4 separate regions of the Homo sapiens genome follow, and regions 1, 3 and 4 are each linked to region 2. Evidence: fine-mapped expression QTL. A gene starts in region 2. Each other region holds a variant in brackets. All regions are shown on one strand. Distances are from middle to middle. Region 1 overlaps TBC1D5 (TBC1 domain family member 5). Region 2 holds the start of TBC1D5 (TBC1 domain family member 5). Region 3 overlaps TBC1D5 (TBC1 domain family member 5). Region 4 overlaps TBC1D5 (TBC1 domain family member 5).

The links. PIP is the estimated chance that this variant, and not a neighbour inherited with it, causes the effect.
Region 1: its variant is the best candidate, but not a certain one, in a credible set for the expression of TBC1D5 in whole blood (INTERVAL, PIP 0.84).
Region 3: its variant is the best candidate, but not a certain one, in a credible set for the expression of TBC1D5 in whole blood (TOPMed, PIP 0.66).
Region 4: its variant is the best candidate, but not a certain one, in a credible set for the expression of TBC1D5 in testis (GTEx, PIP 0.52).

The regions. Positions count from the first base shown.
Region 1 is chr3:17,696,500-17,701,704 of GRCh38, forward strand. The region is part of intron 1 of TBC1D5 (TBC1 domain family member 5); the gene reads right to left. It also overlaps the pseudogene TRC-GCA25-1. Among named protein-coding and RNA genes, the nearest start is that of TBC1D5, 44 kb to the right of the region's middle. The variant T/G (reference allele first, on the strand shown) is at 2,450.
Region 2 is chr3:17,739,693-17,744,897 of GRCh38, forward strand. It overlaps TBC1D5 (TBC1 domain family member 5), which reads right to left and starts at 2,939. Exons shown (of 23, transcript NM_001349074.2): 1 at 2,789-2,939. It overlaps LOC105376975 (a long non-coding RNA gene), which reads left to right and starts at 3,252. Exons shown (of 2, transcript NR_135536.1): 1 at 3,252-3,426. RefSeq lists silencers at 2,426-2,625, 2,856-3,165 and enhancers at 2,625-3,328, 3,286-3,355.
Region 3 is chr3:17,684,902-17,690,106 of GRCh38, forward strand. All of the region lies in intron 1 of TBC1D5 (TBC1 domain family member 5), which reads right to left. Among named protein-coding and RNA genes, the nearest start is that of TBC1D5, 55 kb to the right of the region's middle. The variant C/A (reference allele first, on the strand shown) is at 3,057.
Region 4 is chr3:17,474,279-17,479,278 of GRCh38, forward strand. All of the region lies in intron 3 of TBC1D5 (TBC1 domain family member 5), which reads right to left. Among named protein-coding and RNA genes, the nearest start is that of TBC1D5, 270 kb to the right of the region's middle. The variant G/A (reference allele first, on the strand shown) is at 2,513.

The DNA of each region.
Region 1 (5,205 bases), 43 kb before region 2:
AAGAAATAGATGAATTCCTGGATACATACAAGACTAAACCAAGACTAAACCAGCAAGAAGTTGAATCTCTGAATAGAACAATCACAGGCTCTGAAATTGAGGCAATAATTAACAGCCTACCAACCAAAAAAAAGTCCAGGACCAGACGGATTCACAGCTAAATTCTACCAGAGGTACAAAGAGGAGCTGGTACCATTCCTTCTGAAAGTATTCCAATCAATAGACAAAGAGGAAATCCTCCCTAACTCATTTTATGAGGCCAACATCTTCCCGATACCAAAGCCTGGCAGAGACACAACAGAAAAAAAGAATTTTAGACCAATATCTCTGAAGAACATTGATGTGAAAATTCTCAATAAAATACTGGCAAACCGAATCCAGCATCACATCAAAAAGCTTACCCACCATGATCAAGTCAGCTTCACCCCTGGGATGCAAGGCTGATTCAACATACGCAAATCAATAAACATAATCCATCACATAAACAGAACCAATGATAAAAACCACATGATTATCTTAATAGATGCAGAAAAGGCCTTCGACAAAATTCAACAGTATTTCATGCTAAAAACTCTCAATAAACTAGGTATTGATGGAACATATCACAAAATACTAAGAGCTATTTATGACAAACCCACAGCCAATATCATACCGAATGGGCAACAACCGGAAGCATTTCCTTGGAAAATCGGCACAAGACAAGGATGCCCTCTCTCACCACTCGTATTCAACATAGGGTTGGAAGTTCTGGCCAGGGCAATCAGGCAAGACAAAGAAATAAAAGGTATTTAATTAGGAAAAGAGGAAGTCAAATTGTCCCTGTTTGCAGATGACATGATTGTATATTTAGAAAACCCCATCGTCTCAGCCCAAAATCTCCTTAAGCTGATAAGCAACTTCAGCAAAGTCTCAGGATACAAAATCAATGTGAAAAAATCACAAGCATTCCTATATACAAATAACAGACAAACAGAGAGCCAAATCACAAGTGAATTCCCATTCACAATTGCTACCAAGAGAATAAAATGCCTAAGAATCCAACTTACAAGGGATGTGAAGGACTTCTTCAAGGAGAACTACAAACCACTGCTCAATGAAATAAAAGAGGATACAAACAAATGGAAGAACATCCCACGCTCACGGATAGGAAGAATCAATATTGTGAAAATGGCCATACTGCCCAAGGTAATTTATAGATTCAATGCCATCCCCATCAAGCTACCAATGACTTGCTTCACAGAATTGGAAAAAACTACTTTAAAGTTCATGTGGAACCAAAACAGAACCCGCGTTGCCAAGACAATCCTAAGCAAAAAGAACAAAGCTGTAGGCATCACACTACCTGACTTCAAAATACACTACAAGGCTACAGTAACCAAAACAGCATGGTACTGGTTCCAAAACAGAGATATAAACCAATGGAAAAGAACAGAGGCCTCAGAAAGAATACCACAATGGCCATACTGCCCAAGGTAATTTACAGATTCAATGCCATCCCCATCAAGCTACCAATGACTTTCTTCACAGAATTGGAAAAAACTACTTTCAAGTTCATATGGAACCAAAAAAGAGCCCACATTGCCAAGTCAATCCTAAGCCAAAAGAACAAAGCTGGAGGCATCATGCTACCTGACTTCAAACTATACTACAAGGCTACAGTAACCAAAGAAGCATGGTACTGGTCCCAAAACAGAGATATAGATCAATGGAACAGAACAGAGCCCTCAGAAATAACGCCGCATATCTACAACTATCTGATCTTTGACAAACCTGACAAAAACAAGCATTGGGGAAAGGATTCCCTATTTAATCAATGGTGCTGGGAAAACTGGCTAGCCATATGGAGAAAGCTGAAACTGGAACCCTTCCTTACACCTTATACAAAAATCAATTCAAGATGGATTAAAGACTTAAACGTTAGACCTAAAACCATAAAAACCCTAGAAGAAAACCTAGGCATTGCCATTCAGGATATAGGCATGGGCAAGGACTTCATGTCTAAAACACCAAAAGCAATGGCAACAAAAGCCAAAATTGACAAATGGGATCTAATTAAACTAAAGAGCTTCTGCACAGCAAAAGAAACTACCATCAGAGTGAACAGGCAACCTACAAAATGGGAGAAAATTTTCGCAACCTACTCATCTGACAAAGGGCTAATATCCAGAATCTACAATGAACTCAAACAAATTTACAAGAAAAAAACAAACAACCCCATCAAAAAGTGGGCAAAGGATATGAACCGACACTTCTCAAAAGAAGACATTTATGCAGCCAAAAGACACATGAAAAAATGCTCATCATCACTGGCCATCAGAGAAATGCAAATCAAAACCACATGAGATATCATCTCACACCAGTTAGAATGGCAATCATTAAAAAGTCAGGAAACAACAGGTGCTGGAGAGGATGTGGAGAAATAGGAACACTTTTACACTGTTGGTGGGAC[T/G]GTAAACTAGTTCAACCATTGTGGAAGTCAGTGTGGCGATTCCTCAGGGATCTAGAACTCGAAATACCATTTGACCCAGCCATCCCATTACTGGGTATATGCCCAAAGGACTATAAATCATGCTGCTATAAAGACACATGCCCACGTATGTTTATTGCGGCATTATTCACAATAGCAAAGACTTGGAACCAACCCAAATGTCCAACAATGATAGACTGGATTAAGAAAATGTGGCACATATACACCATGGAATACTATGCAGCCATAAAAAATGATGAGTTCATGTCCTTTGTAGGGACATGGATGAAATTGGAAATCATCATTCTCAGTAAACTATCGCAAGAACAAAAAACCAAACACCACATATTCTCACTCATAGGTGGGAATTGAACAATGAGAACACATGGACACAGGAAGGGGAACATCACACTCTGGGGACTGTTGTGGGGTGGGGGGAGGGGGGAGGGATAGCATTGGGAGATATACCTAATGCTAGATGACGAGTTAGTGGGTGCAGCGCACCAGCATGGCACATGTATACATATGTAACTAACCTGCACATTGTGCACATGTACCCTAAAACTTAAAGTATAATAATAATAAATAGATTTTTAAAATTACCATAATAATTGACCTATTATCCTCTATGAGTCTCATCATCTGATACAGATTTATTCTCAATTATATAAAAATCATCAGTTATTGTTAAATAAGAAACTCAGTATATGTAGATCCTCCAGTCTCTTGGATTTACATATATAGTTTTAATTGTCCAATAATATTGTAAAAGTTAATATCCTTTCAATGTATCTGATTTAAAATTACCACAGAGTATTGTGGGATTAAAGGAGTACTGTGTCAAGGGAAAAAAAAAAAAAAGAAAGAAAGTTTTCTCATCTATTCTGGTGACACTGTGGCTGACAGTATCTACTTTAAAATGGAAGTGAGAAAATCCAGCACCCGGATTTCAACCGGGGACCTCTTGATCTGCAGTCAAATGCTCTGCCCCCTGAGATATACCCCCTTCACCTGTTAGAAGCTCCTTCCTTGTCCACTTATGGTGACTCAATACAATCAAGTTCCACCCACACTAGAGTTCTGGCAAGCTATGTGTTCTAAAGCCCCACCTTCTTAATTATCCATCATCTGCTTTGGCTTGTCCCTTGGCCACTAATAAACTGAAAGGGAACACTTGAAAAATGACAGACAAAAAAAAAAAAATACCACACAACTACAACCATCTGATCTTTGACAAACCTGACAAAAACAAGAAATGGGGAAACAATTCCCTATTTAATAAATGGTGCTGGGAAAACTGGCTAGCCATATGGAGAAAGCTGAAACTGGATCCCTTCCTTACACCTTATACAAAAATTAATTCAAGATGGATTAAAGACTTAAATGTTAGACCTAAAACCATAAAAACCCTAGAAGAAAACCTAGGCAATACCATTCAGGACATAGGCATGGGCAAGGACTTCATGTCCAAAACACCAAAAGCAATGACAACAAAAGCCAAAATTGACAAATGGGATCTAATTAAACTAAAGAGTTTCTGCACAGCAAAAGAAACTACCATCAGAGTGAACAGGCAACCTACAGAATAGGAGAAAATTTTTGCAATCTACTCATCTGACAAAGAGCTAATATCCAGAATCTACAAAGAACTCAAACAAATTTACAAGAAAAAAACAAACAACCCCATCAAAAAGTGGGCGAAGGATATGAAAAGACACTTCTCAAAAGAAGACATCTACGCGGCCAACAGACACGTGAAAAAATGCTCATCATCACTGGCCATCAGAGAAATGCAAAGCAAAACCACAATGAGATACCACCTCACACCAGTGAGAATGGCGATCATTAAAAAGTCAGGAAACAACAGGTGCTGGAGAGGATGTGGAGAAATAGGAACACTTTTACACTGTTGGTGGGACTGTAAACCAGTTCAACCATTGTGGAAGACAGTGTGGTAATCCCTCAAAGATCTAGAACTCGAAATACCATTTGACCCAGCCATCCCATTACTAGGTATATACCCAAAGGATTATAAATCATGCTACTATAAAGACACATGCATACGTATGTTTATTGTAGCACTATTCACAATAGCAAAGACTTGGAACCAACCCAAATGTCCATCAATGATGGACTGGATTAAGAAAATGTGGCACATATACACCATGGAATACTATGCAGCCATAAAAAGGATGAGTTCATGTCCTTTGCAGGGACATGGATGAAGCTGGAAACCATCATTCTCAGCAAACTATCACAAGGACAGAAAACCAAATACCACATGTTCTCACTCATAGGTGGGACCTGAACGAGATCACTTGGACATAAGGCGGGGAACATCACACACTGGGGCCTGTTAGGGGGTAGGGGGCTGGAGGAGAGATAGCATTAGGAGAAATACCTAATGTAAATGACGAGCTGATGGGTGCAGCAAACCAAAATAGCACATGTTTACCTATGTATCAAACCTGCACATTCTGCACATGTACCCTAGAACTTAAAGTATAATAATAATAAAAAAAAGTCTCCTGGGTGGCGCACAACTGTAGTTCCAGCTACTACAGAGGCGGAGTTGGGAAGATCGCTTGAGCCCAGGAAGCAGAGGTTGCAGTGAGCCAAGATAGCGCCACTGCACTCCAATCTGGGCAACAAAAAAGACTTTTTTTTTTAAACAAAGAATATAAAAGAGAGGATATGAACAGTATCCAAATAAATAATCGTTGAAATTTTTCCAGACT
Region 2 (5,205 bases):
TTAAAATGAAAGCAGGCCAGGCGCGGCCTGGTGTGATCCTGGTGGATCACGTCTGTAATCCCAGCACTTTGGGAGGCTGAGGCAGGCGGATTACTTGAGGTCAGCAGTTCGAGACCAGCCTGGCCAATATAGTGAAACCCCGTCTCTACTAAAAATACAAAAATTAGCCGGGCATGGCGGTGGGCGCCTGTAATCCCAGCTCCTGAGGAGGCTGAGGCAGGAGAATCGCTTGAATCTGGGAGGCGGAGATTGCGGTGAGCTGAGATCGCACCATTATACTCCAGCCTGGACAAGAGCGAAACTCCTTTTCAAAAAAACAAAAAACAAAAAAAAAAAGGTAGGCCGAGCACAGTGGCTCACACCTGTAATTCCAGCACCTTGGGAGGCCGAGATGGACACATCACTTGAGGTCAGGAGGTCGATACCAGCCTGGCCAACATGGTGAAACTCCTCCGTCTCTACTAAAAAAGAACATACAAAATAAAATTAGTCGGGAGTGGTGGCGGGCGGCTATAATCCTGGCTACCTGGGAGGCTGAGGCAGGAGAAGTGTTTGAAACCATGAGGGAGAGGTGGCAGTGAGCCGAGATCGAGCCACTGCACCACTGCACTCCAGCCTGGGCGACAGAGCGAGAGTCCGTCTCAAAAAAAAAAAAAAGTCAAGTTCCGTAAAGCACTTACAACAGTGTCCGGCACTCAGTAAGCGCTTCAGAAGTACTGTCATAAATATCAAAGGACTGGAATGAAAATTATAAAAATTATGGTACTAAAAACTTCCACAAAGTTATTTAGAAGTACAACCTCTGCTCAGTCAGTTGGAGTATAAATAAAAAGAAAAAAATTAAAAGTACAACCATTTCTCCATAAAGTGTTATGAAGTTATGTGTGACATTTCTAAACTTTTTAATTTACGTGTGAAAAAATTACATTAGAAAAAACCTGAATCCAGTTAGAACACCCACTGTACGACTCTCAATTGTTTGCAAATTTGCTTCCAAAACTCAGGAATGCACTACTCAACTGAGGCCGCATTTGAGAGCACACACTCAATACTTCCTCCAATAAAAGAAATTTTCATCTCAGCTGTACACTCAGAGACCAGGATTTTTTTCGCCTATATGTTGATAAAACCCAATGACGCATAGCTGAGCAAGTCTTTCACCTAACAGCACACCAAGCTTCTAATGGAAAATTCACAGACCAGGTGATGCAGTCACCATACAGCATACAGACACAATATTTGCACTCTTCCTATCCCCTCCCCTGGAATCCAGACTCAGCCTGCTCACTCTGAAAGCTTTCTCAGTTCATCCTGCCATTTGCCCCTTCTCCCAAGCCACCTCTACACCCGGGGGTGAGTTATTAAAAAGAACATGTTTATTGATAAATACAACACTTTATTTATTTGCACACAAGTTATCCACTTCCTTGCTACTCAAAGATAGTCCCTTGTCCAGCTGCACATGTTATCAGAAATGTACAATATCAAAATGCACCATAGGCCTACTGAACCAGAAAATGCATTTTTAATAAGAGCCCCAAGTGATTCCCACCCACATTAAGGTTTGAGTGTTCTGTGATACTGCAGATAGCTGTAAAAATTAAAAATGCTCAAGTTTACAAATGAATTCAGAGATATGGTATGAAAAGTACCAAGACACGGAATCAGAAAAGCCCAAAGAGAAAAACCAATATATAAATGAATTTCTTTGCCACCGATAGCAAAGGCTCATTTTTCAACAATACCTATTTATTGCTTCCTGCTTTAAGTATTTTGTGCAAGAGCACAACACTTATAAAGGTTTACAAAAGAATTACCGGGTCTAGAAATTCCAGGCAACCTGGTCCAAACGTGTGAAACCTGCATGTTAAAATCTTAGGATTTTGTCCAATTCAGAGTTGACAAATGAACTCTTTCCAGAAAGTTATTATTCGAAAAAAACCTACAGGATGTTAACTTTAAACACAGATTATAATTCCTGTAACTAAAACGAGTAACTGGTATCGAACAAATTCTAGGTCACTTGTAGAATCGAATCTTGTAGTGAAGGTCTGTGTGTTTTTCCAGGAAAAGTCGGGGTGGGGAGCGGGATTTGCCCTCCCTGCGAATTTTTTTTTTTTTTTTTTTTTTTTTTTTTTTGCTCTTATCCTGAAAGACCTCCGTTTCTTACGTGTGAATAAACTTAAGTCGTACTAAATCCAGGTCACGGTTCCCTTCCTCAAAAGTGAAGTCAAGGCTTCTCTCTTCTAAAGACTATTAAGGTTTGAGGATTCAGGGCCCGTTTCGCTTCCGGCTAGGGAAGGAAGCGTGCTTCCCGGGGCCCAAATGAACATGGAAATTTACTAAGTAGGAAGTTGAGCACTAGTCCAGCCGCCAGGCCCTGCCTTTACTGCAGTTGGCCTTCCAGTCTAGACCCCGACCTCCTGGGGCAGGGAAAGCAGGCAGACTGCAAGCAGCCACCCCGCCCAGCTCGCCCTGCCCGCCCTGCCCGCCAGGGAGCTGAAGGGTCCACCCCTCCCGCCATCCACCCCCGACGCCGACTCCGAGGCGCACAAACGGGGGGCGGTGCGGCAACCCGTCCGCCGTGGCGGCGGCACCCTCAGGCCCTCCCGTGAGAAGGCGGCGGCGGCTGCGGCTGCAGCAGCGGCGCGAAGGGGGGCGAAACCTGTCCTGAGGCTGAGTGGGAGGCCGGGGCGGGAACGACTGCATGTGGGGCTGCACTGGAGGAAGGCGGAGGCGTTCAGAGGGCTTGGGCTTTTTTACGATCATCATCATTATTTTATTTTACCTGTGGCGCAGAAGGGCTCCCCAGCTCCTATTCCCTGAATCCTCCTCCTCCTCCCCTCCTCTTTCTCTCTCTCTCCCTCAGTCTGCAGGGCGCTCGCGGAAGCGGCCGGGCCCGGCCCGACCTGAAAGAGAACAGGGCGGGAGGGGGTGGCGGCGGTGACCAGCGGCCACGTGACCACGCTCGCGCCGTAACGGCGGCCGCCTCCCGCCGCGCGCCCTCCCCGCGCTCCACCTCTAATAACCTCGCGGCCCGCGCGCCTGGGAAGCTCGTGCGCAGGCGCCCGCACGGGACCTGAAGTCTGCGCGCGAGCGCAACGCGCTCGCTCTCGGGTCCGGGTTTCTGGGGCCCGCGAGGCGCGAGAAGCGAGTAGGTGGGGAGTGAGCCGCGGGCAGAGCTCTCCTTGGCTGAGCCGGCAGGCTGCTGAGCGCATGCGCCTGAGGGCTTTTACCCCTCCCTTCTCTCCCTGCTTCCAACCGGCGCGCGGCTGGAGGCTGGGAACCAGCTCCTGGGTCTTAGTCAGAGGTTCACATCCACCAACTATCTTCCCAGGGTTGGACTGAGAAGGGGAGCAGAGGGTCCCAGGGACTCTCCTGAGATCCTGGCTCTCCTGCCAAGGAATTTACATTTCCTTGTCACAGGTAAATGGCCTTCCATGCCACATTTTTCTGTGGCTGAGTAGGCTTCTAACTCAGCTCATCTGTCACTTTCTCCGTGAAACTTACCCCTGCCTACTTTAGAGGAGTCACTAGCACTTTGTGCAGACCTACCTTGTAGTACAACCCATAGAAAGATAAAGGTTAGGAGTTATTTTTTCACAAGCCCACAATACTAGACTGTGGTTTCTATCTTTATCTCATAAACTTGGACAGGGTCTTCAGTGTTGTAGTATCTCCCTAAACGTCTGATGACTATCAGAACACAGGGAATGTCTAAAACTTTTATCGTTGCCCTTGGTCTCTGCATAATCATGATTTAAGATCCCCTTTAACCCAAGCACGTGGGAAGGTGGTGTTTGTTTCCCCAGTATGAAAGCCTTTAAATCATAATGTTAATTAGAGTGGTAAATGCTTCACTTAGTAAAAGAGATTTATGGTATTTTATTAGCTTATCTTCACAAAGAGCTCCAACGAAAATTGATACTGTTTAGTCCAGAAAAGGAAACCAAGTCAGAGAAAGGTCAGATTTCTGAAGGTTATCTAGCTTCAGAGGAAGATGCCTGTGTGGGAGACCTTTGTGGACAAACACCCCACTTCACACAGAGATCCCTCTTTTTCTGTTGCCCCTCTTTCTGTTGCAGAAACTGAACAGGTTAAGTTAGTGCCTGTGGCCAGATTTAATCCGGCCAGATTTATTTATTTATCAAATAAATAAAATGTAAAAACTCCCTAATTGGGAGTTCTGGCTAGACCAGTCATCATCACTGTTAGACTGGTGAATACTGAGATGATAGTCAAGAAATGGGGCTAGCAACAAAATGACAGAAAATCCTGGGATGAATGTATATGAAGAAATAGGATTAACAGAGGCTTCTGAGAAACTAGGAAAATGACAACCCTCAAGATTCCATTCTCAAATGTTTACAAAGCTGTTGGACTCTTTTCTGCATTTACCACTGTATACACCCACAGACTGATCCCACCTCATAGTTTCAGCTACCACACAGGTTATGCTAATGGCATCCCATTCTAAATATTCAGCCCAAGATTCAGACCTTGTGGTAGACTATTTTCTTATGGCACACAATTAACTGTGCCTCCCAGTATTCATGCCCATGTATAGTCCTCTGCCCTTGAGTCTGGGCCGGACCTGTCACCTGCCTTAAACAATCAAATATGGCAAAAATTACTCTCTGTCACTTCTAGGCCTAGGCCTTTAAAGACTTTGCAGGGCCAGGCGCGGTGGCTCACGCCTGTAATCCCAGCACTTTGGGAGGCCAAGGCGGGTGGATCACGAGGTCAGGAGATTGAGACCATCCTGGCTAACACAGTGAAACCCCGTCTCTACTAAAAATACAAAAAATTAGCCAGGCATGGTGGCACACGCCTGTAGTCCCAGCTACTCGGGAGGCTGAGGCAGGAGAATGGTGTGAACCCAGGAGGTGGAGGTTGCAGTGAGCCGAGATCGCGCCACTGCACTCCAGCCTGGGCGACAGAGTGAGACTCCGTCTCAAAAAAAAAAAAAAAAAAAAAAAAAAAAAGGCTTTGCAGTGACAACTTTGAACTTTACCAGAGACTCATGGGAAACAGAAATAGTTAAGAAATCCCACCACCTTTTTGTGTTCTGCGAAACAGTTTACCACAAAGACCAATCCTTCTCCATATTACTTAAATGAGACTCATTGTCCAGTTTCTCTGATAAAACTAGTAGATGACCTGTGACAAGACCAAACACATACCTTTCCTTTTTTCCCGAACCTG
Region 3 (5,205 bases), 55 kb before region 2:
CTCTGAACTGTCCTAAAAACATTCCAGTAGTAGAACAGATTTGCCATTAAAATAAAATAACCAAGACTTATTCATTTTAAAACAAGTAAAAAATGCAGATCTGTTCTTTAAAGACACAAAGGGTAATGCAGACTGAGGTTTACATGTTCAATCACTGTTTATAAATGATAGGCTATATCATTAATTTGTAAGTGACTCTAAAATGAGTATGCACATAATACACAAACATTCTACCACTGGTAACTCTAAATAGGTAAATTTAAAGCTAAAAAAAGCTGAAATTTTATCTCTGCCATAAATTTAAAAAAAATCCATGAGCATTGCAATGACTATACTTTTGCCTTAGAGCTGATACTTTAATTTTCAAGAACCACAAAGAAAAAAATCAAAACTAGTCAGTAACAATGCAGCGTCTAAAAGCAATAAACTCAAAATTAACTTATAAATAATTTAAAGGATGTCGTGAAGATGTATTAATAATTCATCAGATAAATAATTTACTAAATAATCAAATAAATAAATAATGAAATACATAAATAAAACAGCAAATAAATAATTCTGCAAAATAACCTAAATAATAAGTCACCCAAACATATCACAACCTACAAAGCTACAATGATTTTCCGGATTTTGATAATTTAAATAAGCAAATGTACATAAGTTAGATCAATCCTTGTTAGAATTAGAAATATTTTTCAATACTATTGGTAAAATCCTCATCTCAATACATATGAACACATTTTCAATGTTTAAAAGACTGCATAGGATTAGTTCTCATACATCATTAATATAATTATAATACAACTGCCTTGATATTATATATATCTTTCTCTAACATATTTTCCCTCAAACAACTGGACACTCAAGACATTCTTAACTTACACTTCTTTTTCAAAGAAATACCTACAATATAATAATGCTACAGCCTTTCTGACAGTTTTCCTATCTTCACCAAATCTTTAGAAATTTTCTGCAGGAGAATAATAAGAAGAGCCTTAATTATTACAGATGGCATTTCATTCACTAGTGGACAATGTTTTACAATTCTAAAAATAATGGGAAGTCGACATTATTAGTCATAAACTATGTCAAGATTTTTAGAAGTCTTCAGTGGACTAACTTCAACTTGACAGTATCCAACTTTCTCTATTGGGGCTGACACACAAGCTGTTACAATTGGCGGGATTTCAGACGTGAAAGACAAAAACTTCAAAGGACAAAGTGATTGGCTGACATCTAATGCTATCTTCAATCTGGGAAGCTCAAAGTCCTTGAAAGAACACGATGAGATCCCTTAACTGTTACAATCTGAATGTAGTCACAATCTAATTAGGGTACCATAAAGGGTCAAAACACAACTGACCTCATAAATCAGCCTTCATTTAACAAAGGTTTTATCTACCCATAGTATAGCATTCTTTATATCCTTAAATAGTAGATCCCAAGTTATGATAGCTGTTCCCATAGAAATAATAACTTTGTGATAGGTTTTTGACACACTGAAGGGACTACATTAAAACAATATAGTACGCTTGAAGAGAAGGAAATTAACCTAATTTACTAATTAATTAAAGTGTTTTATATAATTTATCTTAGTGAATTCTCACAACAATCTTTCAAGTTAGGTAACATTTTACCTATTTTTCAGTGAAGGAAACTGAGGCCCAGTAAAATTATGTATACTGCCTACAGTGCCCAAGTGGCAGGAAAGATCCACATTTTGCCTACACAATCTTCAGTGGGAAGATTCATTAAGCTATAGAGCCCTTAAATTTAGGCCAAACCTGAAAAATTTAGAAAATTCTAAAACACCTATATTGTTAAAGCATGGGTTCTCAACTAAGGGTGACTTTGTTTCTTAAGGGACATTTGGCAATGCGTGGAGGCATTTTGTGTGTCACAACTAGGGAGAATTACTGACATCTAGTGGGTAGAGGTCAGGGATGCTGCTAAACATCCTACAATGCACAGGATGGCTCCTACAACAAGGAATTATCTAGCCTAAAATGTTAGTAGTGATGAGGGTAGGAAACCCTGAATTAAAGTAACATGTATGGTTTTCCTATTACAAAATAATATATATTTGGTTAATAGATGTAGAGTCTTTTTTCTATGTATAATATGTATAGTGAAATATCCTGGATAAAAAAAGTGTATCCTTGGGAGACCGGGTATATGGGAACCCTTTGTACTTTCTGCTCCATTTTTCTCTAAAGCTAAAACTGCTCAAAAACTATCTTATTTTTTCAAATATGTATTCTTCACTTATATGACTAAAGTTATGATTACCTTTCTTAGAATCAATATTAAACAGTAAGTCTACAGTCATAAAAAATGTTTTCTAAAAATTTCATATATCAAAATGTTTTCAACAAGTTAATATGAGAGCATTAAAAGCTAAATTTAGCCAGACATGGTGGCTCACACCTGTAATCCCAACACTTTAAGAAACCAAGGAATGACAAAAATGTATGTTTCCTTATATTTGACCTGTTATATTATCATATAGAGGCTTTAAATAATAGTATACTTTGTCAGCTAGGATTAGGTCACATCCCTCCCAAATCAATAAAAATAATAATCAAATAATAACAAGGAGAGGGGGAAAAAAGGAGGGAGGAGACAAATTTATTTCTCCCATGTAAATGTCCAGAAGAAGAAAATCACAGGCTGATATGGCAGCTCCAACTATAAGGGGCCCAAGTTCCTTCCACCTTTTTGCTCTACCGTACAGTTTCTATTCAAAGTCACCTCATATTCCAAGAAGGCTATGAGAATTGCAGCTAATCTACCTACATTGCAGGCAGCAGGAAGAAGTCTGAAAGGAGAAGAAAAGCCCTCCCTATTCTCTTATCTCACACAATATTCCACCTTATATCTTATAAACCATAAACTTAGCCCTTTGGTCACACTTAACCACTTGGAAGGCCAGGCAATGTAGTCTGTAACACTGTCAATATACTCAGCTATAAAACTGGGATTCTTTTGTAACTAAGGAAGACAGAATAAATTTTGTGAGGTGAATTAAAATAGGCAGACTGCAGTAAAAGTTACAA[C/A]TCTTCAAAGAAAATGAAAGAGGTACTGAAAGATTTTCATTAGAGAAGTTCACTGCAAATTAATGAAAATGAAGGAAAAGATATTTAACAATAGAAGAATGGTTAAATTTAGGGATAATCTTAGAATCGAATGCTATGATTTCACTAAATATCACTTTGAAGAATTTTACTGATATGGAGAACTGTTCACAGTATTAAATAAAAAAATATAAACTATTTCATATACAATAACCCATTTCATATCAATATACATATATACAAATACATATACTAGTATATATATACACATACATATAGGCCCATCATATAGCTATATCTAGAGAGACTGAGACCATATAAAACTTAAGAAAATAAAAACTAAACTGATACTAGTGGTTTAGCTCTCCTTTGAGGAATTGTAACTAAATTTTACTTTATCCATACATTTCATTAATTTCTAGTTTTTCTACAATGAATACATACTATGTGTATTGATTATTTTTCATAAAAATGTTGGCACAGATGAAGAAGCAATCAGCCACCTTAGAAAAGTGGTTAGGTTCAGGCTTCAATTTATTTTATTACCTAGAATTCACTGATTTAAACAATGGCATGGAGCATCTACATCTGAGCTGTATCTTTACCAACCGGGGCAAAACATAGATGTTTCTCTTTAGGCAGTACTAAGAAGCCAACTTCTCTGTGCCCAACTTGTATTCAACTTACTAGCATTCACATATCACGTTTGTCAGCTTTGCACAAGTCACTCCTAACCAGATGCTACATCCATCATTCCTAACAATGTACCCCGACATATTGATTACTTTGCTCATCTCATTCTGTGGAACTAATCATTTGTCCTTCATGCTTCTACAAATCCTTCCACTTTCTATATTTCTCAGCCTATTTTTAAAATTTCTACCCTACTGTACATTTTTCTGGTTACTTGTATAATGAACACATCTAACATAAATTATATCTTTCTTATATTTTTAAAACTATCTTGAATTGTCCCGAATTTTCCAGAGTTACTACTGGGTACACAGAGAATTGTTATATTGGCATTAATTCCATTGGCTGAAACTCCATAATTACCATTAATAGAGTCTCATAATTTAGAATGCTTCAAAATTTTCCATATTTTCTAGAGTGATTTACTTTCCAAAATCCCCATTATCACCATAAAAGAAATGGAAAAACAAAGGAAAAGACATTCAAAGCTACTAACAAGTGCATGGAGTTGGCCAAAATAGCAAACAAACAAAAAAGTGAAATAGATGGACCCAGTCCTCTAGAAAATGCGTTAGACACTCACAACAAAGTCCGGGCACAATGGCTCACGACTGTAATCCCAGCACTTTGGGAGGCCAAAGTGGGCAGATTGCTTCAGTCCAGGAATTTGAGATCAGTGGACAACATGGCGAAACCCCGTCTATTCTAAAAATACAAAAAATTAGCTAGGCATGGTGCTGTGTGCCTATGGCCCCAGCTAGCCAGGAGGCTGAAGCTGGAGGATCGCTTGAGTTGGGAAGGTCAAGGCTGCAGTGGGCCCTGCCTGGGCGACAGAGTGAGACCCTGTCTCAAAAAAAAAAAAAAAAAAGAAAAGAAAAAGAGAAAAAAGGGAGGGAGGGGAATTCATAACAAAATGTAATAAAAGATAAATGTATAATTCAGACAATGTATACTACAGAAAATCCAGCAGGTAAAAAGTCACATCAGGCAGGGATAATCAGAAATGCCTCTGTGTCTCAGATCAAAATCATACAGGAATACAATAGTAGTTGTCAACTATGGAAGACACTGCCCCCAGGGGACATTTGGCAATGTCTAGAAAAACTTTAGGTTGTTCCAAATGAGAAATATAACTTGCATCTGGTGAGTAGTGGCCAGGGATGCAGCTGAACATACCTAAACCTATCATCCCTAAACATACCTAAACATACAACAAACAGGATAGGACCCCTCCCCCCCAAAAAATCAGTTATTCAGCCCAAAACGTCAACAGTGCTAGAAGGACCAGTATGAGCGAAAAAGAAGAGATAGCATTTAATCAGTATAAAAGGATATGAATAAAAGAATTGTTGCTATAATACATGATGCTTTAATAAGTCATAACATGGCCAACAAAAAAACAGTGGGAAACAAGACTAGAAAACATAACAAGGAGTAG
Region 4 (5,000 bases), 270 kb before region 2:
AGATTTCTGAGTTATAAACTTAACTGAGATAAACGAGCTTCATCATAAGCTGAGTTTATGTTTGTCCTAAAATGTCCATCATATCTTTGTTTTCCTTTGGGCAAAATGGGAAAATCATACCCTGTTTTCTATTTAATTCATTAAAAATTGAACATTATGTGATTTATTATAAGTTTTCTGTACTAGGTATGAACATTAGCAATATTTGAAAGAAGGAATCAATTCTCTATCCAAAAGGAAAAAAATAAAGCTGATATTCAAAAGTAAAAGAAATGAACAGCAACATAGAGAAAACATGAAAATAATAAAGAACGACTCCAATCTTCAGAAGATATATTTAGACAGTTTCACATAAATAAAAACTTTATGTTCAACCAACCAACAATTCACACTTAAATCTATTTTAATGCATCATTGACATCGAAAGTAAAAAACAGGCAAGGACAGGAGAAGCACAGGCTTTCAGAAAGAGAAAAATTAAACTGAATGTCAATGGGCAAGGACACGTTAAGACTTATGATATACATTGCCAAATGGAATGCCGGAAGGATAATACCAATCTATATTGCCACAAAACCTATGTGAAAATCTCCAATTCCCTAGACCTCAAGCAAAGCCCAGTTGCATTACTTTTTTTAACGTAACAATGTGGAAGAAAAAAAAGAAAAACAAGAAACAAACTTGCTTTAATGTCATTCCTTATATGGCAAATGAGGTCACTCTGCATTTAATTATTAAGCATCCAAAATATTGCCTAAGAATTGCTAGTTTATGTCCTTTGGTCATTTTTCAATTGTGTTCATATTCCTAACTTGTCTGAATTTTTGGATATTAAAGATATCAAACTCTCATTTACTAATCTCTACATGTTAAGAGTATCCGGTGGTTCTACCTTGCCCCGCCCCACCCGTTTATATATTCCCAAATCTAACACCATCTGCATGGTAACTTCTCCCCAACCTATATCTTAAGACTTTACATCTTCCCAGAATCTCAGACTCATATATCCATCTCCACAAGACAAAAAGTCTAACAGACATCTCAGACGTCACCATACAAGGCAAACAAAACTCTTTATTTCTCCTCCCCACTCACCCCCTCCAAATTTAATTTTCTATCAACTACCAACACTTTAGTAAATGATATCATCTAATTTTCCATCAATTTCCAACACTTTAGTAAATGTTATCACCTCTCTAGTCAGTTGCCCAATGCCAAAAATCTAGGAATCTTTCTAGATAAATCTTTTACCTCACTGCCCTGCAATCATCAACAAGTAGTTTTCTCTACCCTAAATCAAAAATATATCCGGTATCTGTTTAATTATCTTCATTTCCACTACTCCTCTTCCCAGTCTAACCCCACTATCAACTCTCTCCTGAGGATGGCATTCCCAGTCAGAAGCTGAAGAAATTATTTGCACTGCTGATACACATTTGGACTGTTTCCAGTTTTGTTATCATAAACAATGTTCTTACACACAATTCTTGATGCAGATATGCAATAGTTTCCCTGTGTTCCTAGGGTATGGTCATATTCAATTTTCTTGTAATGCCAAGTTATTTCCAAAATGTTTGAACCAACTTTAACTCCTATCAGCAACGTAACAGAGCTCACGTTTCTTCACACGGTGGCAAACTCACATTAATTGATTTTTGCCAATCTAGAGGTTATCATATGTTATCTGACAGGGATTTTATTTAAATTCTTCATACATATATGGCTATTGCATGGTTCCTTTACTACAAAATATAGGCCTTTTTCATGCCATTTTCATATTGATTCATAAGAATTCTTCATACCTCTTGGATGCTAAACTTTTTTTAGTTTTGTATATTATCATCTTTTCTTAGACTGTGGTTTGTATTTTCACTCTGTTTACAGTATCTTCTCATAATAGTTTTTGATTTTGCAATAATTTAATTCTATATATATATTTTTTCCTTTTTGATATTTGAAATTATATTTTCTTCTAAAAGTTTTATAGTTTTGCTTTACACATTTAAGTTTTTAATTTAGGAGAATTTGGTATTGTTAGTAAGATGTGAGAAAATAATTCATTTTTGTTTTCCACCCAAATGAAAAATCAGTTGTCCTCTGCACCACTTAATGAAGATGCCATTCTTTCACCACTGATCTATAATTTCAGCTCTGTCATGTATTTGGTTTTCATGTAAGTTTGAGTCTATCTGTCTATCTGTTCTTCCCACTAGTCTATTTATCAAGTCATGAGCCATTATCATATTACCTAGTTATATAAAATGTGCATGTTTTTTTTCAGAAATGTCTTGACTATTGTACCTTTTTTCTATTAAATACTTGAATGACCTGCCAAGTTACTAAAAATAACAAATCAATGTAAAAATTTTGACTGAAAAATACACTGAATCTATAGATCAATTTGGGGAAAACCTAATAACTCTGTGACAATAAGTCTTCTCATCCATGATCATGGTGTGTCCTCTATATTTATTCAGGTCTTCTTAAATGTCTTCCAATGAAGTTTCATAAC[G/A]TTCTCCACAAAAACTACCACATAGTTTACTGATTTATTGAAGGTTTACTCATATTTTTGTACTGTTATAAATGCTGTATCTTTATTGCTGGTATATTTGTAAGTGCGACTGATTTTGCACACGTTATATAACAAGGAATATAGGTAAACTAAATTATTAAATTCTAATAATTTATGTGTAGATTTTTATTTCTAATTTTAAAGAGAAAACTTTTAACATTTTACATTGAGAAGGATTTTAGTGTAATTCTTTTATAAATGTCCTTCTTCATATTAAAGAAGGTCTCCTCAATCCACAGTTTGTTAACAGTTATTTTATCACAAACTTATGTGAATTTTTTTAATGTTTCCCCTACAACTACTGAAATGACTTTTCCACTTTGCTAATAAGCTAAATTACAAAAATAGATTTTCCCTAAGTACTAACCTTGCATTCCCAGGATAAACAAAATTTGGTAAAATATGTTTATCTTTTTACCCATGCTGGATTCTGTTTACTAATATTTTATTTTTATCCATATTCATGAGCAAGAATGGACTGTACTTTTTCATAATGCTCTTGACTGATATTGTTACAAAGGTTATACCAGTCACGTAATATAAATTTGAAAACATTCCCTATTTTTCAATTCTCTGAAAGAATTTTCTCTTTATGTTTTCTAGAAATCATCTGTCCCCAAATTGGGATTGGTGTTTTCTGTCTGGGATTATAATTATTTATTCCATTACATCAATGGTTATAGTATCACGCAGAAACTTATCTCTTCTTTTATATTTTAAAACTTGTGATACAACTGTATAAGTCATTGTATGTCCGTTATAAAAATCACTTAATCAAATAACCAACTTTTCTCATTTTTAAAATTTTCATACATACTTAATGGCTACATATCCATTTATGTAACCATAGTTTTTGATGTGTAAAATATAACCTAGAAAGCAATGTGTATACACATTACCCATAATAAATGTTTACTATATTGTTTAACAAGTTTAGAAGTATGTATACACATTGCTTTCTAGGTTATATTTTACTGAACTGAACTCTATTTCAATAATTCTTGTCTTTATAGAAATGTATCCACTACACCTTAGTTTTCCAATTCATAGTCATAAAAATGTTCACATAAGAGAATACTTGTATTGTCTTTTTAACCAGTTCATAATTCTGAATGGATTTTAGAAAGATATTTTAGAGGTTAAAAGACTCTCTCTAGAAATGTGATTGAAATTAAACTTGATTAAAGAATTTATTTTAAAGACCTCACTATACCTTTTCATATGCAATACATTTTTAATCTGGAAAATCCAGAAATTTAGGAAAACGTTTGTTTTTTTGCTTGTTTCCCATTAGCTGCTTTACTGTTGAGCTCTCATTGCTTCCATTATTTTTCAGTCAATTGTCTTAGGTTTTCAGTTAATTATTTTGTGTCTTTCGGTAATGCCATCTTTTTTTGGCTGATTAACATAAAATATTTACATATCATAAATGTTCATTTATTTTTGAATTAGTATCTGTGAAAAATTGATGGTATTAATGGCCCAATTACTCCCTTCCTAAACATATGACATTCAGGGTGTGACTTTCCAGCTTCTTCCATCAAAAGGTAGTGGCAACATAGTAATACTGAGTCTTCTAATCCATGAACATGAAATGTCTACTTATTTATAACTTTCCTTAATTTCTTCCAGTATTGTTTTATAGTTGTCAGTGTACTTCCTCTACTTTTGGTGTTAAATGTATTCCTAAATATTTAGTTCTTTTAATGCTATCATGAATAGAATTTTTGCTTAAAATTATTATAGGATTGTTCACTGCTAGTATACAAAAATACAATTTTTGCTACCTCTAACAATTTTGCTACCTCTAGCTGGCTTTGTTACTTGTCTTGGCCAAGAAAATGTGGCAGATCTGACAAGGTCACAGTACCAAGTCTAGATCTCATGAAATCCTGAAACCTGGCAGTTTGTTTACTTGGAAAGCTGACATCACCATGTAAACAAGTGATGGCTACCCTGCTGGAGGATGAGACATGTAGCTTACTGAATCTCCAGACACAAGTGACACAATCTTAGATCATCCATTGCTTAGACACGTAAGCAAGCTCAGCTCAGAGTAAGAGAATTACTCAACTTGCTCACTTTACCATTACCCATAATAAATGCTTACTATATTGTGTAACAAGTTTAGAAACAGTACGTCATACAAACCAAGTTAACTGATACACTATCTATGAATAACATGAAATATTAATGCTTGGTAAATAAATGGCTACACAGCTCATTTTAATCACTGAGCTAGATATATGTCATCTGAAAACATGCAAAGGCTGGACGTGGCGGCTCACATCCATAATCCTAGCTTTTGGGGTGGCAGAGGCAAGAGGATTGTTGAGCCCAGGAATTCAAGACCAGACTGGGCAAAGTACTGAGACCCTGTCTCTACAAAAATAAATTTAAAAATTAGCCAGGCATGGTAGCACATACC